Homo sapiens: one gene and its partners. The protein of the gene in region 4 purifies or fractionates together with the protein of the main gene of each other region. This does not show direct contact. Each region holds a gene or a part of one and is shown on either strand. Other genes may lie near its edges.

Evidence for each region.
Region 1: the proteins of PRMT2 (region 4) and PPM1E purify together in Homo sapiens (affinity purification with mass spectrometry; 3 studies listed by BioGRID and IntAct, with this or other methods). This does not show direct contact.
Region 2: the proteins of PRMT2 (region 4) and L3MBTL3 purify together in Homo sapiens (affinity purification with mass spectrometry; 3 studies listed by BioGRID and IntAct, with this or other methods). This does not show direct contact.
Region 3: the proteins of PRMT2 (region 4) and SETD1B purify together in Homo sapiens (affinity purification with mass spectrometry; 3 studies listed by BioGRID and IntAct, with this or other methods). This does not show direct contact.
Region 5: the proteins of PRMT2 (region 4) and TTC28 purify together in Homo sapiens (affinity purification with mass spectrometry; 3 studies listed by BioGRID and IntAct, with this or other methods). This does not show direct contact.
Region 6: the proteins of PRMT2 (region 4) and VCPIP1 purify together in Homo sapiens (affinity purification with mass spectrometry; 3 studies listed by BioGRID and IntAct, with this or other methods). This does not show direct contact.
Region 7: the proteins of PRMT2 (region 4) and LRFN1 purify together in Homo sapiens (affinity purification with mass spectrometry; 3 studies listed by BioGRID and IntAct, with this or other methods). This does not show direct contact.

Annotation. Positions count from the first base shown.
Region 1 is NC_000017.11:58,968,610-58,972,812, reverse strand, and holds part of PPM1E (protein phosphatase 1E), read right to left. Parts: exon of another isoform or gene 3,275-4,203; coding exon 3,086-3,274; exon of another isoform or gene 2,784-3,085; coding exon of another isoform or gene 2,714-2,783; intron 682-2,713; coding exon 538-681; intron 1-537. UniProt on the Homo sapiens protein: Protein phosphatase that inactivates multifunctional CaM kinases such as CAMK4 and CAMK2. Dephosphorylates and inactivates PAK. May play a role in the inhibition of actin fiber stress breakdown and in morphological changes driven by TNK2/CDC42.
Region 2 is NC_000006.12:130,049,092-130,053,294, reverse strand, and holds part of L3MBTL3 (lethal(3)malignant brain tumor-like protein 3), read right to left. Parts: intron 4,014-4,203; coding exon 3,902-4,013; intron 3,645-3,901; coding exon of another isoform or gene 3,540-3,644; coding exon 3,465-3,539; intron 2,047-3,464; coding exon 1,887-2,046; intron 437-1,886; coding exon 304-436; intron 1-303. UniProt on the Homo sapiens protein: Is a negative regulator of Notch target genes expression, required for RBPJ-mediated transcriptional repression. It recruits KDM1A to Notch-responsive elements and promotes KDM1A-mediated H3K4me demethylation.
Region 3 is NC_000012.12:121,813,694-121,817,896, forward strand, and holds part of SETD1B (histone-lysine N-methyltransferase SETD1B), read left to right. Parts: intron 1-412; coding exon 413-1,237; intron 1,238-3,339; coding exon 3,340-3,601; intron 3,602-3,676; coding exon 3,677-4,011; intron 4,012-4,105; coding exon 4,106-4,203. UniProt on the Homo sapiens protein: Histone methyltransferase that catalyzes methyl group transfer from S-adenosyl-L-methionine to the epsilon-amino group of 'Lys-4' of histone H3 (H3K4) via a non-processive mechanism.
Region 4 is NC_000021.9:46,662,427-46,666,105, reverse strand, and holds the end of PRMT2 (protein arginine N-methyltransferase 2), read right to left. Parts: intron 2,724-3,679; coding exon 2,552-2,723; intron 1,812-2,551; coding exon 1,779-1,811; coding exon of another isoform or gene 1,732-1,778; 3' UTR 982-1,731; downstream 1-981. UniProt on the Homo sapiens protein: Arginine methyltransferase that methylates the guanidino nitrogens of arginyl residues in proteins such as STAT3, FBL, histone H4. Acts as a coactivator (with NCOA2) of the androgen receptor (AR)-mediated transactivation.
Region 5 is NC_000022.11:28,001,341-28,004,840, reverse strand, and holds part of TTC28 (tetratricopeptide repeat protein 28), read left to right. Parts: intron 1-2,161; exon of another isoform or gene 2,162-3,287; coding exon 3,288-3,467; exon of another isoform or gene 3,468-3,500. UniProt on the Homo sapiens protein: During mitosis, may be involved in the condensation of spindle midzone microtubules, leading to the formation of midbody.
Region 6 is NC_000008.11:66,628,529-66,632,731, forward strand, and holds part of VCPIP1 (deubiquitinating protein VCPIP1), read right to left. Parts: 3' UTR 1-4,203. UniProt on the Homo sapiens protein: Deubiquitinating enzyme involved in DNA repair and reassembly of the Golgi apparatus and the endoplasmic reticulum following mitosis. Necessary for VCP-mediated reassembly of Golgi stacks after mitosis.
Region 7 is NC_000019.10:39,314,057-39,318,259, forward strand, and holds part of LRFN1 (leucine-rich repeat and fibronectin type III domain-containing protein 1 precursor), read right to left. Parts: intron 2,081-4,203; 5' UTR 2,026-2,080; intron 1,318-2,025; 5' UTR 1,281-1,317; coding exon 1-1,280. UniProt on the Homo sapiens protein: Promotes neurite outgrowth in hippocampal neurons. Involved in the regulation and maintenance of excitatory synapses. Induces the clustering of excitatory postsynaptic proteins, including DLG4, DLGAP1, GRIA1 and GRIN1.

The DNA of each region.
Region 1 (4,203 bases), on a different chromosome or scaffold from region 4:
AAAGAAGCAAATAACTGGATTCAGGATTTATTCATTTACTTTAACAGTAAACAACAGATATAATACTCATCAGCTCATGAAAAGGTTCTCTTTGTTTCTCCATTGGAGGGTGGGCACAGTTGCTGATGTGATAGCAATAATTGTAATAATTAAGTGAATCCTGGCCGGGCGCGGTGGCTCACGCCTATAATCCCAGTACTTTGGGAGGCCGAAGCAGGCAGATCACCTGAAGTCAGGAGTTCAAGACCAGCCTGGCCAACATGGTGAAACCCCGTCTCTACTAAAAATACAAAAATTAGCTGGGCGTGGTGGCACATGCCTGTAATCCCAGCTACTCGGGAGGCTGAGGCAGGAGAATCGCTTGAACCCAGGAGGCGGAGGTTGCAGTGAGCCAAGATCACACCATTGCACTCCAGCCTGGGCAACAGAGTGAAACTCCATCTCAAAAAAAAAAAAAGTAAGTGAATCCTAATCAATAACTAGAAAATCTAAACTAATAACTAGAGCATGGGCTCTATTAAAACAGACCATACTTACCTCTCTGTCTGGTTTGTGTGGCTTCATTAGTTCAACAGCTTGGCCCTTTCTCACAAGCATAACCTGGGAATCACCCACCCAGGCCACATGTAGCATGTTGCCTCTGATGAAAGTCACCACTCCTGTGGTCCCACATCTTAAGCTCTGAAAACAGTTTAAATAAAACTAGACTCAGTGAAAAGAAATAGATACTACATTCTTATTGAGAAGCAATTTATAATTAAGCTTTTCAGCTGGGAGCTATACTATTAATAATGGAATTTCACACATATATAATAATTCATTGTCTCAATGCATTTGTATATGCATGTATGTATTTATGTGTATATACACACATAAGTCCACCTGATCTGTGATATGCAGGGCGAGGATGATTATTAATTCCACTTTAAATATAGATAAGAAAACTATGGCAGGTTATGTGACTTGCCCAAGGGCAGGTAACTATTAGTATATAAGACAGAATTGAAATTCTTTTTCCTCCCAGTCAAGCACTAAATCCTCTATACCAATCCTCAGAGTAAAAATTTCTATATTCTGCTCTCCATTTCATTACTGACATCGTATTTGTTCAGTGGGAGAGTCCTAGCTGTATAAAATGATATATAAAACATCTGATTGGTACACAACAGATGCTCTAATCTCTGGAAATTAAGCTAAGGGGCCAAGAGACAGCTTACGTTCCCTGGAGTACTAAGATGCTTATACCTTTAAAAAAATATCCTTCCTACAGTATTTTTAGGGGTCTTTGCTTTTGGAACATTGCATAAAGAACTAACAGCCTGGAATTTCACTGCAGTAGCTACGACTGTACTTAAAGCTCTTGGTCCTACTATACGAAAATGACATCCCCATTTGACATGAGTCACCACCAAATGAGCATGACTTTCTGTTACTAAGGACCTGGCCTAAATTAGAACCAATGCGTCAGGGGTGGTAAAAGGTCTCTTGTATCCAATGAGAAAAACAACTTCTCGTTTTCCCTATATAGGGAAAGTTTGTTATAAATCCTCACCCACCAATAAAATGTCTTCCCACACAGAATGTTCAAAAACTCAGCCCCCTAGAACACATGATAAACACACTTCAGTGCATATGCCCTGGAGAGAACAGGAGGCAGGGCTGCTTCATAACAGGAATAGCTGTTTTCTTCCCAGCAGTTAGCAGCACATGGAAGCATAAGAAGGAGAAAAGGGGCGCTGAGACAAACCTAAATTATTCAGAACTATTGGCAGAACTGAGAGACACCAGGGTCACTGACAAAACAAATGAGGTAAACATGGTCAGAAAACAACAACAACAACAACAACACATAATTTTGAGAAGACAGAGGAAAAAAAGAATAGAATAGAGGATGAAGAAGACAGAGTGAATCTCTTTGTTTCACATTGATGATTACGGGTCACCTCTCAGGGGCCGGCCCTTGTCCTCGACTCAGATGATAAAAGCCCACAGCTTCAAGAGAGGCAGAGCCAAGCAGAATGCAGGTCCTCAAGAGACTGGAGCTCTGAGGTCAAGAGTGGCTTTATTCTCCAGACCCACCTCTTTGTGTGGACTCTACTGGTTACTGTTGGATTTGCATATTAATCCAAACTTAGGGGAGGGGAGAGATGAAGAATAATTCTCTTTCTTAATACCAAATAGGTCTGAGTTATTGTTTCATTAATTCTAAGCCCCATTATTGCTTGTAGCATAACTATGCTATCAAAAAATGGATTAAATGATTACCCTGATCTCTCCAAGCCCATTTTAAAAAGAGTTAATGTTTAAGTCACAGGGCAGGAGTCTTATTTTTTGTCTGTATCTACTTCTGTAATTATTTTTAAAAATTAAAAATTCTTTTATTCGTCCCCAGTTAAAAATCCAATATAGAACACTGTAGTTAATTATGTACCAATACCCAGAACGATAATTAGATTAATTTTTTTACTTTTAGACCTTAATATAGAGCCCTTGCCATTTATTCAAAGTAAAAAAAACTTAGGTCTGATTAACCTTCGCAATGTAGGACATGAGCTCTTCTTTTCTCCCTATTAAGAGAAAAATCAGCTCAAGGATCATTTAAGGATTCACCCTCTCCAAGCGAATTTTCCCTCAAGAGATACACAGCAAAACACTGCCTACCCATTTAGAACCAAATGTATGGAAGTAATCCCAGTTTCTGTTTCTTTTTTAGACCATTGTTTTATTCACCATATCCAGATCTTGTCAGCAAGAGTCTGCTTAGAGAGATGGTCCTGGTGTGAACCTGACAGGCAATGGTGAATAAAAGAAAGATGAAACTCACCTGCCAAATCCAGCAGTTATTACAGAAATGAATCCAGAAAATTACAGCTTGAGATTTTCTATACAGTACCTCATTGTACCCCCTGAAACTCTTCCTGAGGAGGGAATTGGAACTACAACAGAATCCAATACTGTGAGTCAAGAATACAGTTTGGATAATGTCTGCCCAGAAAGAGAAAATCTAAATAGCCCTTTAACCACACAGACCAAATTGAGCTCAGCTAGTACATTTCTAGCTGGAACTTATGAGAAAGGGGCATACCTCCCTGGCTGCTTTCTGCACAAACCGCTCATCAGTGACCCGGAAGGCCCTGCACAGGGCCTCAGCAGGATCATGGGGGAACATCTCCTGGCGGACTAAGTTAACGTGGAGGTGAATGGAGGCATAAATAGCAGCATCTACTCCCCCATGGCCATCAAACACTGCAAAGTAAGCTTGTTCTTCCTGGTCCTGTCAACAGAAACACAGAACAGTTATGGGAGTTGGGTATAGCATGATTCAAATGAACCAATCTCCTGGCATCATTGTTGCCCATCCTTTCTCCTCCACTGCATTTGTCATTCAGAATAATGAGACTAAATGTTTTCCTTCTCTAACATGCCTGATCAACTGCTGAAATACCTGCAATATTAGGGTATCTGTGTTTACACACCAGAACACTGGAACATGTCATGCCCAATTAGCTCAAGCTGAAGTGCCCTCTCTCTGTGAAAGTTGTTGTCTTGTACCATGGAAACCACCCACGTACATTTGCTTCAAAATTGCTGTTACAAGTTGGGGGAGGGGGGATAGGGAGGGTATGAGAAGGAATTGAACAAAAGCAGCTCCAGATTGAGTGATTTTTTTCAAAATGAAAGTACTTTAATAGCAAAATTAGAACCTGAGAACAATAGAAAATAACTGGTCTTCCAACACAAGGCCAATTAAATCAAGTTTAAAATATATAAAGATATGAAAGCATAAACATACTTCTAAACTATAATACCTTCTTCATAAATCATTCCCAGTCACACTGCATTCTCACCACAAATAGCACAGCATCTCTAAACTAGTTTACCAAACTTGAACCACATCAGATGCTCAAATGCCCTGTGCGGCTGACCACTTTGCCTCACCCCATGATCTAAGATTTTAGTTTCACATTTCCTTGCAAAGTAAACTGCCAGAGGAGGATCTTCCAACCCTGTGCTTTGTCTTGACAAAAGCCTAATCATAAGATTCCACATCAACCATTAAGCAGTTTGCTGCTTTATCATCTGCTCAAGTGTTTAAATCTCAGATCTGTCTCACTTAGGAGATCTGTGACGCACTGAACTCGCACTGAGTCCTGAGCTCCCTTCAGGCAACAGTATGTAATAATTTTCATTTGCAAGTCTTTT
Region 2 (4,203 bases), on a different chromosome or scaffold from region 4:
TGTCAAGAGGAATTTAAGATTCATCTACAAGACTGAAGGTTTTTAAATGTTCCCTTTCACCCTAGCACTAAATTTCAGGACATCCCACTTTTTCACCCTGAGAGAAGGATACTATTGTTTATGATTCCCATTTTGAGATCAGGACAGCAAGGCACACAGAGGCCATGTAACTTACTGACACTAACACAGATAGTCCTGGAACCCACATTTGAACTCAGTGGGCTCCAGAGCAGTGCTTGTGACTGTGATGCTACCCACTAAAGATGCATCCCTGTGCTCCTGGTGTCAGGCAGAGGCACTCACCATTTCATCATCTCTCTCTTCTCCATCCTCCTTGGTGTCAGCTTTCAGAGATAATTTTGGTTTTTTCTTCCGACTACACTTAGGATCTTCTTCCTCATTGTCTTCTTCTACGTCCCTTTCTTCCTTCTGATCTCTGTTGTGTTTATAAACCCAAAATAGTGACAAGAGACAATACCTATCAAACATCTACTTGTTGATTATCAATGCAACAATCATTAAAAAAAAATCACCCTGCAAAGGAAAAATCTTTAACTACCAGGAGAAATCTGTAGGCATGAGAATATCATATATCAGGAACACTGAAAACAACTATTACATATGACATCTGTCTGTCAGGGCAGAAAATGAAAATTACCTTATATATTAATTTCAAAAGGGGGCCAGCAATATGTATGAAATAGGTTCTAACAAGTTATTTGTCTGTCACATCTACCATCTATACTAATAAAAGAATTGATTATTTAGAGATATTTGTTTTCAGGGTCAAAGAAGGATCTAGCAGTTATTAAGAATGACAAATCCAATTGAAAAAAGGCTAAGTGTAACATTGTGAAACATCAGTTATCCAAGAAAAACAAGACAGTTCCAGTTGGGCGCAGTGGCTCACACCTTTAATCCCAGCATTTCGGGAGGCTGAGGCAGGCGGATCATGAGGTCAGGATATTGAGACCATCCTGGCTAACATGGTGAAACCCCGTCTCTACTAAAATAGAAAAAACTAGCTGGGTGTGGTGGCGTGCGCCTGTAGTCCCAGCTACTCGGGAGGCTGAGGCAGGTGAATTGCTTGAACCTGGGAATGTGGAGGTTGCAGTGAGCCAAGATCACGCCACTGCACTCCAGCCTGGCGACAGAACAAGACTTCATCTCAAAAAAAAAAAAAGAAAAAGAAAACATTTCCCAAGCCTGTGCTGATTAAAATACATGGGAAATGCCACTAAAATATAAATGTCCAGTCATTTCTTTGTAGTATACAATGATATGCAAGAAAAACACCTTCTTGGTGATAAGCTGAACTTTGTCAGACTGTCCCCAAATGGGAAGGTCACACACCACTACCAGTTACAGCTGATGCCTCTGTCTCATAATCCTCAGTCCACACCTTGAGATCATCAGTGACCCAACTCACTACACTCTTCCCTATGGCCATTTCCATTCAGCTGATTACGAATCAGTGGAAGCTTTATGCCGTAGGTGGAGTTTTAACCGAGTTACCTAAGAATTCCCAAAATATAAACAAAACTATGTTTCTATAAATGTCAGTGTCATCGAAATGTGTATATAGCCCAGAAAAAACTAAATACTCTTAGCTGAAGACAATCAAATGAATGGAAATGGAAGACTGAAGGCAGAGGCAGAGGCTGTTTTGCAGGCAGAATATTAGTAATACAACTCAGACCAGGCATGACAGACGTCACCAGGTCCCATATAGGGGTTAGGGCCCATGTGGCCCTAAAGGAAAAGTCTCTGGGAAAAAGGTATCAATAGGTGATCAATGTCCGAGAGCATAAAACTTCTATATTCTCAGGCACCATGACTTTGGAATCTAAAACTCAATTTATAGATGGAATGGGGCAAAAACCTACTTATCTTTGATGTGCCGAGCACAATTCTGGCTGCAATAGTTTCCTCCAGAAAGACACTCATCTACGTTGCCATACTGACAACAGTTCTCACAGAACTGAAGCCCTTCTACTTTCACTGGATCCTTCAACCTGAAAGGCATCCCAGTCTTCTCTGAAAAGACTAGAAGATGAAAAGAAGAAATGCAAATTACAACCATGACAGAAGACATTCTAAAATACAATCAAACTTTTTCTTCTAATAATTTTGTTAGCAACACAATAAAGAATAGTGTTTGCTGAATGAATGAATGATCAAATGATAGTGTTTTCGGGGGGTATGGGCTCTGTAAAAATCACTCAAGTCATTCAAATAATGAAAAAATATTCTGCAGAAAGGATAAAAGCTTGCCCAAGGCTTTTTCTACAGAGTTCAAAGTAAAATGAAGAAAATTTCACTAGTCACTAAATTCAGAAGACGCATATATCGATCTATAGAAACTTCTTCTATATTTGTATCTTTCAGAAAATTTCAGAGGATCTTCTTTTATTTCACATTTATAATCTTTTGATGAATGATTTTGTTTTACTTAATTGGCTAAATCAACATCTCTTCTATTACGCTTTCAATGTAGTACATTTCCTGACTCATAGCTATCCAAATTGTGTAGAAACTCGCATTTCCTTTTGCCTGAATTGTTAGGCTAATCATTCATTCAGCCAGCAGTTATTAGGCACCAATTTATTCTAGACATTAATAATGACAGTAGAGACCTTGCCCAAGAGAGCTCACAGTCTAGAAGAAAAGAGAGGCAAGAAAACCAGTATTTATAATAAAATGTGATACATGCAATACTAGAGGCATAAACAAGGTCCAGAAGTAGTACAGAAGAAGTGATTCATTCAGCCTGGGGTAAGGTCAGAGAAGGATTTTCTGATAGAAAGCCTCAACAGGGTTTTGAAGGCCAAAGAGGAATTTACCAACTGGACAAAGAGAGAAATGGCATTTGAGCCAGAAAAAGCAGTATGAGTAAAGGCAAGAAAGCATGAAACCACATGATGTGTTGGGAAAATTACACGTAATTCTGTGCTGCTGGCACTGCCAGAACACAACATACAAAGAAGGAAACAGAGACTGAGGAGACAAGGCGAGCAGGTAGGTGCAGGCACCCAGATCTTTGTATGTTCTGCTAAAAAGGCAATGAGAAATCAGTGAAGTGTCAGATAAGCAATCTACGTTAAGTTCCTCTGGCTTCAAGGTGCAGGACCAATTGGAAGGGGGTAAAATTAGAAGTAGAGTGACATCTGCAATAGTTCAGATGAGAGTTGAGAAGAGCCTACATTAAGGCCATGGCAAAGATGATAGATAGAAAAGGCCAGATCTGAGACATATTAGGAAATAAAAATCAAGAGGTATAAGTAACAGGATATGGGGATGGGAAGAACAAATTCAGGATGACTCCTGTGTTTCTTGCTTGTCCACTGGGTGGATGGTGCTATTGTCAACTGAAATATGGGTTAGGGAAGAAAGAGCAGGTTTGTGGGGAGGGGAGAAAGAAATAGAAAATGAATTGCATTTCAGACATGTGGAGTTTGAGGTACCTGTGGGACATCCAGGTGGAGATGTCCAGTAGGCAGGTGGAAATACGGGCCTGGAGCTCGGGGGAGAGGTCGGGGCTGGAGATGTAGATTTAGGAGTCATCAGCATATAGGTGTTAGTTACAACCATCGGAGTAGATGAGAAAAAAAGTGGCAGGCTTTTGGCTAAATCACCTGTGTAGGCTACAACATGGATTTACTTAATTTCCAACTAACCTTGTGCTACTACAGATCTGGCATTAGGACAAAGAAGACAGTTTATAGTTATTTTAAAACATAAATGCTGGCTCCTATCAGTTTCATTATAGAAATTTACCTAACAACATGAGGCACAAAAATTACCCGGGGCCTTCAAAGTTCCAGCCTATTATAAAACTTTAGATATTCTTATTTCAAATCTTTCAAAAGCAAGAAATAAAATGCAGATGACCCATCCTTACCTTCTTGAGCAGTTGGTACCATCCAAGTGGTGGTAGCAGTTGCTTTTTTAACATTTTCCATCTCATTCTCATCTGTAATAACTTCCAGGGCTCCAAACTCATTTACCCGAAACTAGCAACAACACAGCAGAAAGGCAAAATTTAAAAAGTGCTCAGGAAAGTCATTAATTATTTAATGGCTGACACATATAGTCTTCAAGCAAATTAATTACATGGTAAAAGTTAATTTAGACAATTATATCCTGATACACCTCCCACCAATACTAAGACCTTTGCATTTTACTAATTTTGGAATTCAAGGA
Region 3 (4,203 bases), on a different chromosome or scaffold from region 4:
TTCATCCTCTGTGCCCCACCCGTCTCCCTGCCTTCTTTCTCTCCCTCACGTTTCCCGTATTCACCCTCATCATCCTTTTGCCTTTTCCTGCTGGCTCCGCTCCACAAGAGTAAGATGTTTGCCTGCCTCTTCAACTTTGTGTCCCCAGCACCTAGACCAGTGCCTGGCACACAGGTACTGAGCAAATGTTTGTTGAATTGGAATGAATGAATGAATTCTAGTGGTAACTCCATGAGGCAGGGACTATGATGCCCATTTTGCAAATGAAGACGCTGAGGCTTGGAGAGGCTGAATGGCTTGCACTGGGTCACACAGCTGGGAGTGCCACTGATTGCTAGTCTTGCAGAGGGGACTCCGAGAGCCCCTTGGCCTTCCAGACTCACCTCACTGTCTCTCCCTGCTCTCTCTGCAGGGCCAGCAGTCCTCAGGCGAGGACATGGAGATCTCGGATGACGAGATGCCCTCGGCCCCCATCACCAGCGCTGACTGCCCCAAGCCCATGGTGGTGACCCCAGGAGCGGCAGCCGTGGCAGCCCCTTCTGTGCTAGCCCCAACCCTGCCGCTGCCCCCGCCACCTGGCTTCCCCCCGCTGCCCCCCCCACCACCACCACCCCCACCGCAGCCTGGCTTCCCCATGCCCCCACCGCTGCCCCCACCGCCGCCCCCACCCCCTCCAGCCCACCCTGCTGTGACAGTGCCCCCACCACCCTTGCCAGCGCCGCCTGGAGTCCCGCCCCCACCCATCCTGCCACCACTGCCCCCCTTTCCGCCGGGCCTGTTCCCTGTGATGCAGGTGGACATGAGCCACGTGCTGGGTGGCCAGTGGGGCGGCATGCCCATGTCCTTCCAGATGCAAACGCAGGTGCTCAGCCGGCTGATGACGGGCCAGGGCGCCTGCCCCTACCCGCCCTTCATGGCCGCTGCGGCCGCCGCTGCCTCAGCTGGGCTCCAGTTTGTCAACCTGCCGCCCTACCGGGGCCCCTTCTCCCTGAGCAACTCCGGCCCAGGCCGCGGGCAGCACTGGCCACCACTGCCCAAGTTTGACCCGTCAGTGCCTCCACCAGGCTACATGCCACGCCAGGAGGACCCACACAAAGCCACGGTGGATGGCGTCCTGCTGGTGGTCCTCAAAGAACTCAAGGCCATCATGAAGCGTGACCTGAACCGCAAGATGGTGGAAGTGGTGGCTTTCCGGGCCTTTGACGAGTGGTGGGACAAGAAGGAGCGGATGGCCAAGGTGGGTGGGTGGGTGCAGGGCTCTGCAGGGTGGCTGTGGAGGGGGGCAGGTCCCCAGCCGGGCACCTCCTCTTTCCCTGAGACTGTTAACTGGAAACGCTGCCGTGGACCCCACTATGGGAGCTCCATTTCATGTGGCCACTTTCAAAGTTCCGCAAACTGTGCTCCACTTCAGCAGCCACTAGATGCACACGGCTCTTTGAATTTAAATGAGTGGCCAGGCATGGTGGCGTACACCTTTAATCCCAGCACTTTGGGAGGCTGAGGTGGGAGGATTGCTTGAGCCTAGGAGTTCAAGATCAGCCTGAGCAGTATAGCAAGAGCCCATCTCTAAAAATAAATGTGCAAATTAACTTAAATGAATTAAAACAGAGTAAAATTAAAACTCCTCCTTTGTACATGCCACATTTCAAGTGCTCGGGAGCCACAGGTGCCTAGTGGTAGTACACAGGATAGCTGGTGCAGACTGCCCCCCCCGCCCATTGCAGACAGCTCACAGCTGCGACTCCCTTTGAACTTGACTCCCCTCACCTCCCCTCATGCCGCCTTTTACACGGAGCCCTGTCTTGGACCACTTTTTTCCTTTTTTTGTTTTTTTGAGACAGGGTCTCGCTGTATCGTCCAGGCTGGAGTGTAGTGGCGCAATCATAGCTCACTGCACCCTCAACCTCCCTGTGCTCAAGGGATCCTCTCACCTCAGCCTCCAAGTAGCTGGGACTACAGGCATGTACCACCACACCCAGCTAATTTGTGTGTTTTTCTGTAAAGACAGAGTTTCACCACGTTGCCCAGGCTGGTCTTGAACTCCTAGGCTCAAGTGATCCTCTGCCTTTTGGGCTGGGATTATATGCGTCAGCCACCGCTCCTGGCCTACTTACTATTTTCTTTTCTTTCTTTTTTTTTTTTTTTTTTTTCGGAGATGGAGTCTCACTCTGTCACCCTGGCTGGAGTGCAATGGCGTGATCTCAGCCCTCTGCAGCCTCCACCTCCTGGGTTCAAGCGATTCTCCTGCCTCAGTGTCCTAAGTAGCTGGGACTATAGGCACCCACTACCATGCCTGGCTGATTTTTGTATTTTTAGTAGAGATGGGGTTTCACCTTGTTGGCCAGGCTGGTCTCGAACTCCTGACCTCAAGTGATCCACCTGCTTCAGCCTACCAAAGTGCTGGGATTACAGATGTGAGCCACTATGCCTGGTCTCTTTTTTCCTTTTTAACATATTATTTGCCTGTTTGCAATCTTACAGGTAATCTAAAATTACTTATTTTCTCCATAAGAGAGAACTTTTTCTTGAATACTTTAAACTCCCCTTAATCCCTCCCCTCCACCCCATTCCCCCCTGCTCCCCTCCCTCGACCGTGGTTATGAGTTTGAGTGTCCCCTGGAGCCTGCTTTGGGAAATGCTTGCTTTCTGCCACAGAGGTAAGCAGCACTTGTCAGAGCCTGTTTGTCATCCGTTTAACTGGGCAGTAAAATTAGAATGAACCGTCTGAAATCACTGATACACAGCTCTTTATGGTTCAGCCAAATTATACTGACCCTACAGTAACAGCTAATAGCTATTCCATTCACAATTTGAATAAAAAGAGCCACCAGGCCTCATGTGCCCTGCACCTTGCAAAGCTCTTCATGTGGCTCGTTTTGTTAATTCTCACAGCATCCCTTTGAAGGCAGAGCATTTCAGAACCACAGGGGCAACCCCTTAGTGAGCAGTGAAATAAAGCCAGTAGGTCCTGTTTTTAATGCATGGGAAGAGAAGAGAAAATGGGATAGTGTAAATCTTACCTTGTGAAGGTGGTGTTGCACAGATGTGTCCCTATGGTGTAGTTTTTGGATTGTCTGCAAAGTGCAAAGGCCACTGTTGTAAGGAAGGCAGGTACAGTAGTCCTATTCTACAGGGGAGGACATTGAGATCTATGAGGCAGAGCGGTGCTCTAGAGCCTCGTGGGTAACGGCATAGTGTGGCCAGGTGTGTAGGGAATGAGGATGCAGTTACCTGTGGTGGCTGTTACTGCCGAGTGGAAGGCAGGTAGCCTGGGGAGGGCTCCCTGCAAGGGTTGGTGGTGCCAGAAGCGGTGACGGTCCCCTCCTGTCTCCACCCCAGGCCTCGCTGACCCCGGTGAAGTCGGGCGAGCACAAGGACGAGGACAGGCCGAAGCCCAAGGACCGCATCGCCTCGTGCCTGCTGGAGTCATGGGGCAAGGGCGAGGGCCTGGGCTACGAGGGCCTGGGCCTGGGCATTGGGCTGCGTGGGGCCATTCGCCTGCCCTCCTTCAAGGTCAAGAGGAAGGAGCCACCAGACACCACCTCATCTGGCGACCAGAAGCGGCTGCGGCCCTCGACCTCTGTGGATGAGGAAGATGAAGGTTCGTGCTCTGGGTGCTGGGGTCCCCTTCTTCCGCATCCCCCCAGCCCAGCTCTGACTCCCTCCCTTCCTGCAGAGTCCGAGCGAGAGCGAGACCGGGATATGGCAGACACCCCCTGTGAGCTCGCCAAGCGGGACCCCAAGGGCGTGGGTGTGCGGCGGCGGCCGGCGCGGCCTCTGGAGCTGGACAGTGGTGGGGAGGAGGACGAGAAGGAGTCATTGTCGGCGTCCTCGTCCTCATCCGCGTCATCATCCTCGGGGTCCTCAACCACCTCACCCTCGTCCTCGGCCTCCGACAAGGAGGAGGAACAGGAGAGCACCGAGGAGGAAGAGGAGGCGGAGGAGGAGGAGGAGGAGGAAGTCCCCAGGAGCCAGCTCTCCTCCTCCTCAACCTCATCCACATCAGATAAGGTGCCTAGCAGGCCAGGAAGCCTCAGGGGGCCGGGCCAGGCGACGAGGGCCAGACCCTTCGGCTCACCTGTCCCCACTCTTCCTTCTCCCCCAGGATGACGACGATGACGACAGTGATGACCGGGACGAGTCTGAGAACGATGACGAGGACACAGCCCTGTCAGAGGCGAGTGAGAAGGACGAAGGGGACTC
Region 4 (3,679 bases):
GACTTAAACAAGCACCTCAAAAACAGGATATCCAAAATGAGCGGCAAATCTACAAAACTGGATTAGTCATCAATGAAATGTATACCAAATCCACACGCCCACCAGAGCAGGTAAAATGCAAAACACAATACTGGGTGTTGACGAGGATGCCAACTCTCATGCACAGCTGGCAGGGATATTAGATTCCTTGACTTGAAAACCTGGTATACAGTGTACACCCAACAGAAATGTGTACATACATGCACCAAAACACATACACAGAAATGTCCACAGTCTCAGTAATCATCATAGCTAAACCATGGCAACAACCCAAAAGGACACCATGTGAAACAAGATCATAAACTGTGGTCTATTCATGCAGTTGAATACTATGCCACAATGAAAAAGTCAACCACAACCACACTGTCTAAAATTCATAGATGAGTCTCACAAACAATGTTTAATTAAAGAAGGCAGACACAAAAGAACACGTGTACAACTCCATTCAGGCAAGAGTAATCGACAGTTACAAGTCAGGACATCACCCTTGAGAGGGTGGGCACTGAGTGGAAGGGGAATCGGGGAATCTGTAGTGTGTCCTGGCCTGGATGCTGGTTACATGTGCGTCCACTTTATAAAATGCCATCATCTATGTACCCATGACTAGCACTGTTTTCAATATATATTTGATATTTCAGTTTTGTTTTTTGGGGTTTTTGAGACAGGGTCTTGCTCTGTCACCCACGCTGGAGTGCAGCAGTGCAATCCTAGATCACTGCAGCCTCAACCTCCTGGGCTCAAGTGATCCCCCCGCCTCAGCCTCCCGAGTAGCTGGGACTACAGGCACACGCCACCATGCCCAGCTAATTTTTCTATTTTTTTTGTAGAGATAGTATCTCGCTGTGTTGCCCAGGGTGGTCTTGAACTCCTGAGCTCAAGGAATCATCCCACCTCAGCCTCTCAAAGTGTTGGGATTACAGAGGTAAGCCACTGCACCCAGCCTATATTTCAATAAAATTTAATAAAAATCAAAACAATACAAAAAAAAATTATGGACATGTATCTACTGATGTGGAAGTTTTTTCACAATATTGAGAAAAACTTATAAAGCAATGCATATAGTATGATCCTGTAATTACAAAAAATAACATATATGCATAAAACAGGATACACAATGACATTCACTCATTTAAAAATATTTATTGAGCATGTGCGATGGACCAACACATAATTTATTTGGAAGACGTCTACACAACTGTACTATCCCATGCAGAGTCCCATCGCATACATCACCACCTTAGCTCGCACGCTGAGCCAGGGCAGTGTTCCCTACACGCCACTGGCACAGCCCTGTGCAATCCTACGTCCCACACGAGTGGATGAGCGACGGCAGTAAGGGCACCACTAACATAGGAGGTGGGGACAGTCACTGTCACAGGGTACACGGGCTGATATGCGTGCGTCCTAGGAGTGTAGACCTAGACCTAGCTTAGGAACATGGAGCTCCGACCCAGCCACGGGTCGGCACTGTGGGCACCACGGGTGAACACCTGGAAACACAGCCTACTTCTAGAGGGCAGACACTGGGCAGCGGGGGTGGCCACGGCAGCTCCTGCCGAGCCCAAGCGTGTTTGTCTGTGAAGGACCCTGACGTCACCTGCCAGGCTAGGGAGGGGTCAATGTGGAGTGAATGTTCACCGACTTTCGCAGGAGTGTGCAGAAGCCAGGTGCAACTTGGTTTGCTTGTGTTCATCACCCCTCAAGATATGCACACTGCTTTCCAAATAAAGCATCAACTGTCATCTCCAGATGGGGAAGACTTTTTCTCCAACCTGAAAAAGATAAATGACAACAGGTCAATCAGATGATAAATCATTTGATTAACATACTACATTTCCTAATGGTTTAATATTGGACAAGAGAACAGTATTCAGGTGCAGAATTTTTTTAAATGACAAACTTTTAACAAAAACTTATCACAAAGCAAAGCACAAAACAAATATAAAAAATGAAGGAAAACCATTTATTTTTATTTTCTTTGCCACATTAATCCTGAGCCCAAAGAAGAACATTCCATTTTCAGCAGCCTCTGAGACAGGAAGCCCAAGTGAGCTGGGCGAGCTACACATGAATTCACACACGGATCCGAAGGCTGCCAGTCAGAACACGCATCACAGACGACACGCCTAGACTAACTGCTGCCTGGGAAGCCACAGAGGCCTGTGTAAAGGGAGCGCCAAGGCACAGCTCAGGCTTCTGTCCATCTGGGGGACCCTCTGGACATGGCACAAGGGGCCTCAGGCTGATGTGGGTCTCTGCTCTCCCTCACTTACCGTGTCACCTGAGGGAATGACTTCCCTGACTTCCCTTCCAGAGCCCTCCACTTCCCGTGCTGTCAGATGGGAAATGAAGCCAATGACAACAGGCGCTTTCTGTGTAAGGATTAAATCACTCCTGCACAAAAGGCGTGGACCCCAGTGTGGGCCAGCATCTGCCATCACTACCACCACCCAGGCCTGTCTCCCTGAGGACCGGCACCCACAGGACAGAATCTTACAACTACGTATCTTACTTTTTGAGATGTGGGGTCTTGTCTGGAAGTGACAGCCCAGCTCAGAGCCACAGACATGTGCCTTCTCCACACTGGGTTTCTCTGCAACACAACTGAACCCGTGACCACGTCTCCTGTATGGACAGGGACTGGGTCGTCCATCATGAACAGCGTCTGCTTCCAGTGTGTGGTGCTGCAAGACAGGGGTGCGTGTGACCTGGAGGCTGAGCTAGGGCAGTCTCCACATGGCCCTCGGGGCGCTGACTCAGGCTCGCACTGGCTCTCGCCCCCAACAGCACCCACACAGCCGGCAGTCCACCCTGAGGGCCTGGGGACACAAAGCTTGGCTTTTCAGGCTAACTCAGGGAACATATACACCCCCAGCCCTGTGATCTAAAGGGACTCTATGGGATACACTGGGATCAAAGTTACGCTAGTGAGACAGATCCTGCCAATGCCAAACACAAGCTTGCTCCTGAGACCACTCAGATTCCAGGAGGTGTGGACGGCTCACCCTGGGTGGCCCAGAGGATGCGGGAGCTCAGGGGACACACAGCTGCACTAAAGGTCCCGTGTGGTGTCGACTCCCCGGCCCGCCAGGAGGACGGCTGTGCAACCCCTTCCTGCACCCTTGCCTAAGCTGCAGAGGCTGGTGATCTAGCTCCTGCTGTTAAACTGTGGTGTACACAGACAGAATCAGGTCCAAGGAGTCGCTTCTGTGAAGGTTACAAGGTGAGGACAACTGTCACATTTGGGGGGAAATAGTAAAACGCTATGATTCTGCACTGGGTTGCGTTGGAAACATCTCTAAGTTCCTCAGGCTCTGTCTTCCCTCAAACTCCCACTGTCCACGGTGGGGCCAGCAGTGAAGTGGGGGGCTCCTCAGGTCTCCAGTTTTTCCCTGACTCTGGTCACACCCCTCACCCCAGCCTGTGCCCCAGGTCACTGCCCCCTCCACGCCCCCAGACTCGGGGATGGGTATAACTGGCCTCCAAGCTGCCCACCTCCACCCGGTGATGGCACTGGAGGGGCCACCACAGGACTCTTGTGATGGGGACCACATGCCAGGCCAGGCCATCAACCCCGCACCTCTGCGACCTCCCTGGAGCCGGGGTCCCCTCGCGGGGCCACCACGCTGGGAAGTCAGCG
Region 5 (3,500 bases), on a different chromosome or scaffold from region 4:
GCTTGCTTTCCCCTTTTCAAGTTCACGTTGGATTATAACTAATCTTTCAGTGCAAGGACAGCACACATACACCAGAGTCAGAGCTGACAAGTTTCCTGGGCATTATCTCTAACATGTCCAATCAGTTTCCCCCTTTGAACGGCAGCTGTCAGCCTGCTGTTCTACCCGTCTCCCCACAAGCCCACACATTTCAGAGAACAGCTGCGACTGTCACCTGCCTCATTTCACAGAGTTTGGACAGGGGTCCCATTTGGGGACCTTCACCCAGGGTTGTATGCATGAGCCAAGCTTGGTACCAGCTCCTAGGCATGATGCAGGGAGGACCCAGACCTCCAAATTGGGATATGAGGTTCAGAGAACAGCCTCCCTATCTCCCAGCCTGGACTTCAGACTTCTCCTCACCTGCTAAGGTCACTCTCACTGAGTCCCAGCAAGTCTCCTTGTCTCTTCTCTTGGTGGGCATGCCCTGGTCTGAATTACTCTTGGGTACAGCCCCCTCTCCCGCAGGCAGGCAGGCTGCCTCTCAATGCTTTGCAGGGCTCAGCTTGAGAAGGCATGGCGGGTCCTGACAGCCAACAAGAACCACACTTTCTTGCCTGATCTTCAGCGCCCCCACAGTCTGGCTCCCATGTCCCTCTTTAGCCTTGTGCTCACCTGGCAACAGCATCTGCCCAGGCCTTCCCCAACCCTCACGGACCCTCCTGGGTGGGCCCAGCGTCAGCCTGGGTAGGCTTTCCCCGTTCTGGGGCTGCCATGCTGCCATGAAGGTGTTACATTTGACAATACTGAGTTTCACTCAGCAATGGCCTCTTGTGTGCATTTTAGTTTTCTAAGTACATCATCATAAGTCTGCAAGCAAGGACCATATCCTAAATTTATCTGACTTCCCTACGGTCCCCAGTAGGCACATGACGGACACCACTCAGTGGCTGATGGGAAAGTCGAGGCCCAGCTTGGGAGACTTCTGACAATAGGGCCACAGGAGATGCCCCCCACCCCTGGTGGAGTGTTGGAGCAGACAGACAAGCTGCCTTCAAGGACATGCATTCTCTGATCATTAGGCTTGTGCCGCAGATGAGGTTTCGTGGGCAGAGTTAGCAGAGTTCTACGAAGATGGGCTGCCAGTGAATGTTTGCTCTGCGTGGATTCCAGCCTCACTTCTCCATTTTTCAGCTTGCCAAGCTTCCCTCCGGTTCACACAGTTAGGTGCTGTCATGACCAGGGACTTGTCTATGAGTGGCGTGTGTCCTGGTGAAGGCAGTAGCCTGTGGGATGATATCTGACAGAAACTTACTGTGGTTTGGGCTTAGGCAGCAGGAGCCCAGGGAGGACCTGCAGGCCTGGGGCTGGGGCTGGGGCTGGCATCTTGTCACAGCAAAGCCCTGCGACTCTGGAACAGTGGAAGTGGGTCCAGTTTTGCACATGGCAGGTGGCTCAAGCCCCACACTACCCATTCTCAGGCAGCACAGTTCCCACTGAGCAGCAGGTGGTCATCACTGTCACAGCTGCTGACCCTGTCAGCAGGGTCAGGGCAGCATCAGCTGTGCCACTGCGGCTGGTTCGAGGTTCACTGGCACACCTCCACGGTGTGGTGGCACTGCCCTCCAGAGCAGCCCCCTGAGCCACCTTTACCTATGGAGCCGGCCAGGGAGCTCAGGTGTGGCCCATGGCAGGCCATGGGGCCCAGGTGCCCTACAACTCTTTCTCCTCCCTGTGCTAACCCAGAGCTCATCCATAGACAGTGTCGGGGTCACTGTGACACACCCCTACTTCTTCCTGCCTAGGTTGCACAATTGAACAGTGATTAATTTACCTCCTCTTGGGAAATACTGTAGCTCTTTTTTTGTTGTTGTTTTTGAGACACAGTCTCGCTCTGTCCCCCAGGCTGGAGTACACTGGTATAATCTTGGCCCACTACAATCTTCACCTCCTGGGTTCAAGCGATTCTCCTGCCTCAGCCTCCTGAGTAGTTGGGACTACAGGTGCATGCCACCACACCCGGTTATTTTGGATTTTTAGTAGAGATGCAGTTTCACCATGTTGCACTCCTGACCTCAGATAATCCTCCCGCCTTGGGCTCCCAAAGTGCTGGGATTACAGGTGTGAGCCACTGGTGCCTGGCCCATGCTGTAGCTCTTACAGCAAACAAATGAAAAACAAATTGGCCTAATACTTTTTATTTCTGCTTTCGCTAGATGGAGCTAGAAATTTTTTTTAAAGGAAAGAAAAAAAAAAACCATATGGGTTTACAGAGACTGAACATCCCGCCAGGCATGTGTCACTTTGGGTTAGCCTAGTGCTCTGCCACTCTCAGTCAAGTGCCCACGGCAGCACATCAGACGGGTCAAGCGAGCACATTTGCTTCCCCAGGCACAAGCGAGTGGCACCCTGGTGGGTGTCCGCTTGTCAGCCACTCCTCAGCAGATGGGGTTGGGGGGCAGGCCAGCCCCACCCCTGGCACCCAGTGTTGCGCAGGCCCTGTGGACCTGGGACCTTCTTGGCAGGCTCTGGGCTGCAGCAGCAGCTTCCACGCCACCTCTTTGTTCACCGCAGTCTGTGTGGACCCAGCTTCCAGGATTGTTGCCTGCTGCTCTCATTAAGATGCCCGCGCCCTTAGCCTTGTTCTGCAATGAACAGGAATGAGGCTGTGTCCGCTGTGGCCCTGTGCACACCCTGCCTCGAGTCCTCATGCTCGGCCTTTCAAGAGGGATGGGAGTCATCCATGCATTGGGTCCCCTGACATCCCCAGAGGGAACAAGTGGGGACGGCACCTCCCAAGCCCAGAGCCAAGGGGCCACTCTTTCTCAGAGGAGGTCACGGAAGATCCTAGAACCCAGCCCATCCCCTTCTACAGGGGCTGTCATGCCAGCCCCCAGACCTCCCGTCCTCACTGTGATTTTCTAGCCTCTTGTCCATTGAAATGGAAAACAGATCTTGTTTTGAGAGGGGCCATTCCCACCCCTTCTCAGGGTGCCTGTGCGGTACAGACCGGTCTCCAACCCACTTCAGGTTCTTGTGAACTTCAAGAAACTGTCCTCTAACCTTCTCAGGACTGTGAGGCAGATGGATGCTGCCAGGCCAGCCCTTGCCAGTCCACAAGCGAGCATGCCAGTTGGTGCCGCTCCTGCAGGGCTGCAACTCGGCCCATGCCCCATGGCGCCCCACACCCCCACAGGCCTCACCTGCTCGTGCTTGTGTCATCCAGGCTAGGGCTCAGGGTTGTCCTGGTGCCTGAAACCCCTGCCTGCTGGGCCACCCATGTCAGCCTCTCCGTGCTTGCTCCATAGGGCCTGATGCACTCCAGCGGCCCCGTGGGCCGGCACCGGCAGCTCATCCTGGTTCTGGAGGGGGAGCTCTACCTCATTCCTTTCGCCCTCCTGAAGGGAAGCTCCTCCAATGAGTACCTCTACGAGCGCTTCGGCCTCCTTGCTGTCCCTTCCATCCGCTCCCTCAGCGTGCAGTCCAAGGTAAGGCTCACACACATGGTGGGGGGCCGGGGG
Region 6 (4,203 bases), on a different chromosome or scaffold from region 4:
ATTATTAAGTCAGAATTGCAGTTGCTGGGGTCTGAAAGAGCCAGACAATAAAAATAAAATCCATAATGAGCTGTTATAAGTAGGATGTTTATCTTATTTACTAAAGAGTTTTTGAGAATTCTATTCTGATGGTATGTGACCAATGGCATGCATATACAAGACCTCAAGTCCAAGTTTGGGATAACTGTAGCCAACACCTAAAGGAAAGGTAATTATGTTTTAGTTTACATGGGGCTCATACCCATGTCACTTGTCCCATCAGCACTATGCCCTCTGCAAGTAAGACTATGACGACAATGGTCGGCAGAACAAAAGGTTGACAATTGTGAAACCACAAGGTTACAGAAGAAATTGAGGCCTTGAAAGGCTCCAAGACTTGCCTTGGGTCACAGAGCACACTGTCGGTTTGAGATTCTCAGTGTTGCACATGGTCATAAATGTTTGAATGTACAACCCCCCATTTTTTAGTCAATTATGTACAAGTAAAATAAGTTTTAATGTAACAAATTATTTAAATAATGTGTGCCCTGTGAGGATTTATCCCACTTAATGGCAACTGAACTCTACCACATTACATTAACATATAACATAGCAAATATTTGAGTGTTTACTATGTGTCAGGCACTCTTCTAATCATCAGATACGTGTTAACTCATTTAAGACAGCCACCCTGGGAGCAGATGTGATCATCATCCTCGCAGAGAGGAATGCACAGAGAGGTCACAGAAAGCAGCGTACCAGGAGTCAGACCTAGGCAGTCTGGTGTCTAAGGCTATACTCTAAATTATTGAGTTAAATGATCTAATAAAATGTATATTAAGCATATACAATAAAACTTGGAAGTAAACGTGTTGACTGCTAAGCTACACAAACGTTATTTAGTACTATTATCTGTATTTCCTTTCATTTCCTTATCACTAACCAGTATTTTTTTAAACCACCACAAAATCAAGTTCTCTGTTAGAATTTGCCTTCATTTTTAAATATTCAGTAAGCATTATGGCCCAATTATGTAATATGTCTAAAGAAATTTTGCTGGCAGGGTGCGGTGGCTCACGCCTGTAATCCCAGCACTTAAAGAGGCAGAGGAGGGCAGATCACTTGAGCTCAGGGGTTCAAGACCGGCCTGGGCAACATGGCAAAACCCTATCTCTACAAAAAATACAAAAATTAGCCAGGTGTGGTGGCACATGCCTGTAGTCCCAGCTATTCAGGAGGCTGAGGTGGGAGGATCACTTGAGCCCAGGAGGTTGAGGCTGCAGTGAGCCCTGATCATGCCACGGCAATCCAGCATGGGCAGCAGAGTGAGACCGTTTTGGTTTTTTTTTAAATTGCGCACTCTTTTTTCACTGGGTCCATTTCATCTAGCAATGAAATCTACATTAAGGGGAAAAATCACTATTCCTGTACGATAACCCGCTTAAGTTCAACAAGAAAACTTTATTATTTAAGAATTTCTTTATAAAACTGAACTATATGTTCATGCATTATAATTCCAGGAAACTAAAGAACATAAAATTACCTTTAAAAGCTAATGTGGAGAATTTCAGGGGAAAATCAGTATTAACTTATAGTTTTATTATTGATATAAAAGAAAACTTCAAATACTGTACAGTAAGGTGTGCTGTAGAACACTATAATACACTATTACCAATTATTCATTACTCAAATGTAATATATACAGTAATCACGAAATCGGAAAATAATGGGCAACAGCCAGTGCCTTAAGGGTGAAATAACATCTATACTATTTTATTGAGCAGTTAAAGCACTTGCTATTTTTCTAAATATTTACACTATTACTGCTTATGTTTACAAATTCTAAGTATCATTTCCCTCCAAAAAGTAGACTTTCCAGTTCTTGGCACTAATTCTTAGTCAAATAAGCCTGAAAATACTGGCAACCTTTTCAGTCTTGCATTGCTCTACCACAGGCATAATAAGGGCTCAGGACGAGATTTCTGCATTCTAAAGAAAAGTAGGCAATACCTTAAAAATTTAAAAACTAAGTAATTGATACTCACAAGCAGGTAACATCAACTAAAACTTTTTTCTTTACTAATTTTTCCTTTTCTTTTACAAGAGAATAATCATTAATATTATACTACAAAAGCATGTAGTCTCCATAATTAAAAAATTAAATGTCAGATATACAAGTAATGGCATTTTCTCCAATAATTCATAATTTTTACAATTTCTGCTATTTTGGAACAAACATTAAAATTCCCACGATTTAAGTATCATTAAATATGAACTGAAACACTTAGCATCTCAAAGAATTATCAAGAATGGTAGAACTTGTAATTAACTCTATAACTTACATGGGTGATATAGTTCCCCTTTGTTGTTTTATTTCTTAAATATACATTCTACTAAGGAATATTTTCATGTGAACAGCTCTGGTTTGAAAAATTAATTTATACTGTGAAGAGCCTTAAGGTTGTACAATTTTGTTAAATTATATGATAACCTTGAATGGTAGGATGCATTTACTCAACTTAGAATATGGCGCTATTATTATTATAAATGGTGGTTTTTAATTCACATTAAGATAGGTGGAATTTAATCCAATTTTGCAAAGGCTTTGTGTTTATAAAAATCTTAAGATGGAAACCTTGCTTTGAGAACCATAAAACTCAAAATCTGTGTAGTATTTTAAGTATGAACCAATTGAAATTACTGTTGAAAAATGAAGACAAAACTGTATTGATATTCTGAAATAAACACTTTATGCTGCCACTATATTGACCAGTTGAAGTGTAATTAATGACAGAAGTAAATTTTTTACCTAAAGGTTAGTTATTAGTGAGGTCTACATATTTAGAGAGTTATTCAGTAGCAGATAGTATTGGTAGGTAACTACATAAAACAATACTTTTATACATTTTGCATTTAGTAGCTAACATGTGATGTCAGTACAATTCTCAAAAACCTGTCATTAGTAGTATGAGTTGCTAGCAAGTGATCTTCCCTGAGGTAAGAGACCATATGCAAAAGTCAGTGTTCATCTCCAATGAAGATACTTAAAAATAATGGCAATAAGGACCTGTGGCCAGGAATTACAGATGCATTTCAGATTGATATCTTAATTGCAAGCAGTAGGCTTGACTGTAAAAACCAAACTAAAAATCACTGGAAGACACAGAGCCAGTATCAGTCAATAGCATTTGCTAACTTTCTCAGGCCTCTACCCTAACATTTTCCAATAAAAATATCTGAAACAGAGTGAAGCGGGAGAAATGGGTTTGCTCTTTAACTAGTTCCTGAGTAACCATTCTCATGGAGTTAATTATATTCTATCTTAATATATGGCAGCATCTTGTTTTCTTCAATTTACAACAATTTCTCATTACCAGTATTCTAGATACATACTATCTTCAACACTACCTGGACTTTAGGTCATCAACTTAAATTTGGTATGATTAACTATAAAATGGATTACTGAAGAAAAAATTTACAACTTTATTTCAATGTTTAGTGAAGCACTGCAAACAGAATTGCAGGAATGCATTTTAGTTATAATGTTACCTCTAGGGCTAAAAAAAAAAAAAAAAACAAATTTACCTGAGATGTCTAGCTTGCACGCCAAGATGTGGCTATATCACAAATGGCAGTACTAGAAAAATAACCATGCTATAGTCATGTATTTGGTTATGAAAACCATATGGAAAGACAAAGGATGATATTTAAAAACTTAAAAGAAACCCTATTCTAAAACTTCTTTGTGAGGATACCTGGCCTACTTCTCAAAAACCATCAATTCACCCCAACCAAATTTTCAGCTGATTTGAAAGAATTTCAAGAAATTTGATCACTTATCAGAATTGAGCCTTTTATTCATTTATCAAGGGAGAACCCAAACTATTACTGTACTATTCATACCTAACTGGCTTTTAAATAGCATTGCTGTAGCTAGAGAAATTAATAAAGTTGTCAGAGATTAAGTCCATCTTCTAACATTCACATACGCATTCCAATTTGCACTAAATGTAAGAATAGGGAGATAAAGTTTGTTTCTGGTATTTTATGTTAATGCTATGAGATATCTGTCAGTTATCAATGAAGAAAATATTTGTTAAAGAAGATTATATCATTTTACATGAAAGCAGTGCATTTTTTGCTTAAACAGTTTTCCTGTATTTAAATCCCCCCAAAAAAAGTTCCAGTGGCTGAAAAAGCCAAAAATAATTATAGTGGTTAGTG
Region 7 (4,203 bases), on a different chromosome or scaffold from region 4:
CGACGCTCAGCCGCAGAATCGTTGGCACCTGGTCTGCCCGGCGTGGCGATGTCAGAGGAGCCGGGCTCGGTGAGAGGCGGCGGGGCAGCCGGCGGGGGTGCCATCAGAGGCAGAGGTACCACGCACACCTCCACGGGCGCCGTCGCTTCCCCAGCAGCATTGGAGGCGATACAAGTGAAGGTGCCACTGTCCCTCAAGGTGGTGATGGTCACATCCAGCGTCCCGTCCCCCCGGACCCGGGTCCGGCTGGAGTTCCCCAGCAGCCGCCCATCAGGTGCCACCCAGTGCACCACCGGCTCGGGGTCACCCACCGCTCGGCAGCGCAGGCTCACCGCCTGGCCTTCCACCACCAGGGCCCGGCCCCCCGCCTGCCGTGTGATCAGCGGGGGCTCACACAGGAACTCCTCCTCGGGGATGGACCAGAAGTAGCGGTCGGTGAGGTGTTCGGGCGTGGCGCAGGTCTCTAAGTCGTCCTCGCGGGTCAGCCGCCGCAGCCAGAGCAGCTCGCAGTTGCAGTGCAGGGGGTTGCCGCCGAAGCTGACGGTCAGCGGGGTGGGCGGCTTGGGCCCGGTGCCCTGCGACCTCAGGAAGAGCCCGTCGGGCGGGAGTTTATGCAGGCGGTTGGAGGTCATGTCCAGACGGACCAGCTTGTGAAGCTGCACGAAGGTCCCCTCCGCGATGTGGTCGATGAGGTTGTGGTCCAGCGTGAGGGTGTTTAGGTTCACCATCTGGCCCACCGCCTCCCACGGCAGGGCCTCCAGGTTGTTGTAGGACAGATCCAGGTCCTCCACGGTGGACAGGAAGGCGTCAAAGGCCGCCGACTCCACCCGGCGGATCTGGTTGTTTCCAAGGATCAGGTGGCGGAGGTTGCCCAGGCCGCGGAGCTGGTCGCCGCGCACCTCCGCCAGGCGGTTGCTGTCCAGGTGCAGGGCCCGGAGGGCACGCAGGTCGGCGAAGGCGCCAGCTGCCACCTGGCCGATGGTGTTCCGGGAGAGAGTGAGGTGCACCAGGCTGGTCATGTTGGCGAAGTCTCGGCGGCGCACGGCGGCGATGAAGTTGTCGGTGAGCCGCAGCTCCACCACGCGCCGGTCGATGGCGGGCGGCACAAAGAGCAAGCCGGTCTTGGCGCACAGCATTGTCAGTGTGGGCGCCACGTTCTGGCAGATGCAGCGGCCGGGGCAGGGCTGGCCACGAGATGCCCCCGCCCAGAGCAGCAGCAGAAAGGGCAGGGCAGCGGGCGGCGGCGAGAGGAGGGCCGAGGAGAAGGGTCCTGGAGCCATGGTGCAGTGGGAAGGCAGGAGGGGTGGGAGGTGAGACCTGCCGGGGAAGGAGCCGGTTACCCAGGCGTGGGACTTGGCCGCCATGGGATGTCCTGCTACGAGTCAGGCCTGGATCCCTCCCCTACCGCCTACAGCTGGGTTCCATAGGATGGTGAGAGGAAGCCACTATCAGCTATTAACAACAGATTACAACACTTCCATGCTGGGCACAGTGGCTCACGCCTGTAATCCCAGCACTTTGGGAGGCCGAGGCAGGCGGATCACCTGAGGTCAGGAGTTCAAGACCAGCCTGGCCAACATGGTGAAACCCCGTCTCTACTAAAAATACAAAAATTAGCTGGGCATGGTGGTGGGCGCCTGTAATCCCAGCTACTTGGGAGGCTGAAGCACGAGAATCGCTTGAACCAGGGAGGTGGAGGTTGCAGTGAGCCGAGATCACACCATTGCAATCCAGTCTGGGCGACAGAGCAAGACTCCATCTTAAAACATAAATAAAAATAAAAATATCTCTATACTGGTTGATAGAATACCCCTGTCCCTACTTGCGTGTCCCACCCTCACCTCTGCCCCTCCTGTAGTAGCTCCCAAACCTCTCATGATCTCCCAACCAGAGGGGTGACACCTGGCCCAACCTGGGCCCTCCAGTACCCACTAAATTGTCTAAAAAATCACTGTTAACTATGGTTTAAGGCCCTGGCTATCCAAGCCATACTCCCTAGCTCCAAATCCCAGCTCTGATACTTACTAGCTGTGTGACCTCCAGCAAGTATCTGAACCTCTCTGATTCTCGGTTTCTTCATCTGTAAAAGGGAGATAGAAACAGGCCTTACTTCTGTGAGGATTAAATGTATTGATGAACATAGCATACTTAGAATAGTGCCAGGCATATAAAATGTGCTTATTACATGTTAGCAATCATCATCATGATCATCAAGTGCTTAATATGTACCAGGCATAGAACAGTGCCCTATTATTGAGAGTAAGTACTTTGAAATCAAACAGACTCAGGTTCAAATCCTGATTCCCCTTTTGCTAGCTCTGTGACCCCCAAGCCAATGATTTCCCCTAGCTAGGCTGTAATTTCTTAATCTGTAAATTGGGATGATAATTGTACCATCTTCATTCATGTACCACCGACCATGCCTGGCATACAGTAAGTACTCAATAAATGTTAAGGGTTTCCCCCCTCCCGCCTCTGGCATTGGCAGGGAGAGTGTCAAAGTGGGAGGGACTGAGGAAAACACATCAGAGTCTTCCAGTTCAGCCTCAGGAAGGCCTTCTCTGAGGTCTGGTTTCATCCTGGGCTCAGTTGAGCTCCCAAGCAAGGCAGACTTTCATGCTCACATCTTTGGGTACACACAACACACACACACACACTCACACACTCACACACTCACGCTATGTCTCTGCTCCAGGCAAAACCTTCCGGCAGGGATTCCCCCTGCGGCGGCTGCAGCCCACGACATGTCAGTTCCCATCACAACACAGGGTGGGCGGGGGGTGAAGAGGAAAGGATGGGAAGGGGGCGTCCCTAAAACTGTTTTCACCCCACCCTGCCCTGTACCCTAGCCCCTGCTGGCCTACCTCCCAGGAATCTGTGTTTGGGGCTACGGCCTTAGGTGGCTTTGATCTTCCTGCCAGTGGGGAGGGGGCCTGGGACAGAGACCAGGAAAGTCAGAGACAGAGGTGAAGAGAGACAAGGAGAGACCAGGGGGAGGGAGAAGTGGACTGGCAAAGAGAGAGAGACAGATTGGGAGAGAAACAGAGAGACAAAAAGATGAGTCTGAAAGGAAGGTGAACAGACAGAAAACTGAGAGTGAAGAATGAGACACAGAAAAGAGAGAGACACAGAAAAAAGACACAGAGATGGAGAGAAAAATAGAGACAGTATTAGAGAGAAAAAGACAGAGGAGGAAAGAGACAGAGAGTAAGAGAGACAATGACCGGGCTGAAGGCGGAAAAAGAGGCCGGATCGGGGTGTCCTACCATCTCTGAGTTCACCCCAAATCTGTCCTTCACTCCCTCTAGATCACTACTCTACAATGTACTGGAAACCCTGGCCTAGAAAGGGGGACTCCAGAATTAGGAGCCTGAGTCTGCCCCTGCTTGGCTGTGGGGTCTTCAGGGCTCAGAATCCCAGTCTATGAAACAGAAGTCCAGAGCCTCGCCTCCGACAGCTGGGGTAGGACTCAAATGGAGGGAATAATAATAGCAATGGAAATAGCTAACATTTATGGAGAGTGGTGCAGCACTGCAGGACAGAATCCGCCCTACTGCCTGGGTTCAGACCTCACCTCCCCACTGTGTGACTTTAATCAAGTGACTTCCCCTTTCTGTGCCTCGGTGTGCTCATCTGTCAAATGGGAATAATAATGGCACCCACCTCATAAGGTTGCTATGAGGATTTAATGAGATAATATTTTATGACATGCTTAGAATAGTTCCTGACAAAGTAAACACTATATACATGTGAGCTGCTGCTATTATCATTATTATTATTACTATTATTATTACTAATTTATTATTTTCTCCAGCTTTCTCAGCCACCAGGAGGTCAGGCTATCGGGAGATCTTCCCACACCCATGCACACGCACATACAAAATGGGCAAACATATTCACTCAACCCTCTAAATGCAGGGGTCATTTCATATCTTGACATATTCTTGTATCCTTTACTGATATCATGAGGAAACCTTGCTTTCCCAAACACCTTAACCATCCTGAGAATGAATGTCTCTTGGCCTGAAACCCCCCACCTGCTCCCCAGAGCCACCTGGCCACCACAAGCCCTCACCCAACTTTGATGTTCCTGACCTTGTCACCACTCCCCAGCCTTGGACAGAGTGGTGGGCAACTGGTCCTTCAGGAAACTGTCATCCCCTGAACTGAAATCCATGCGAGGCAGGGTTCCAGACCCCCAGC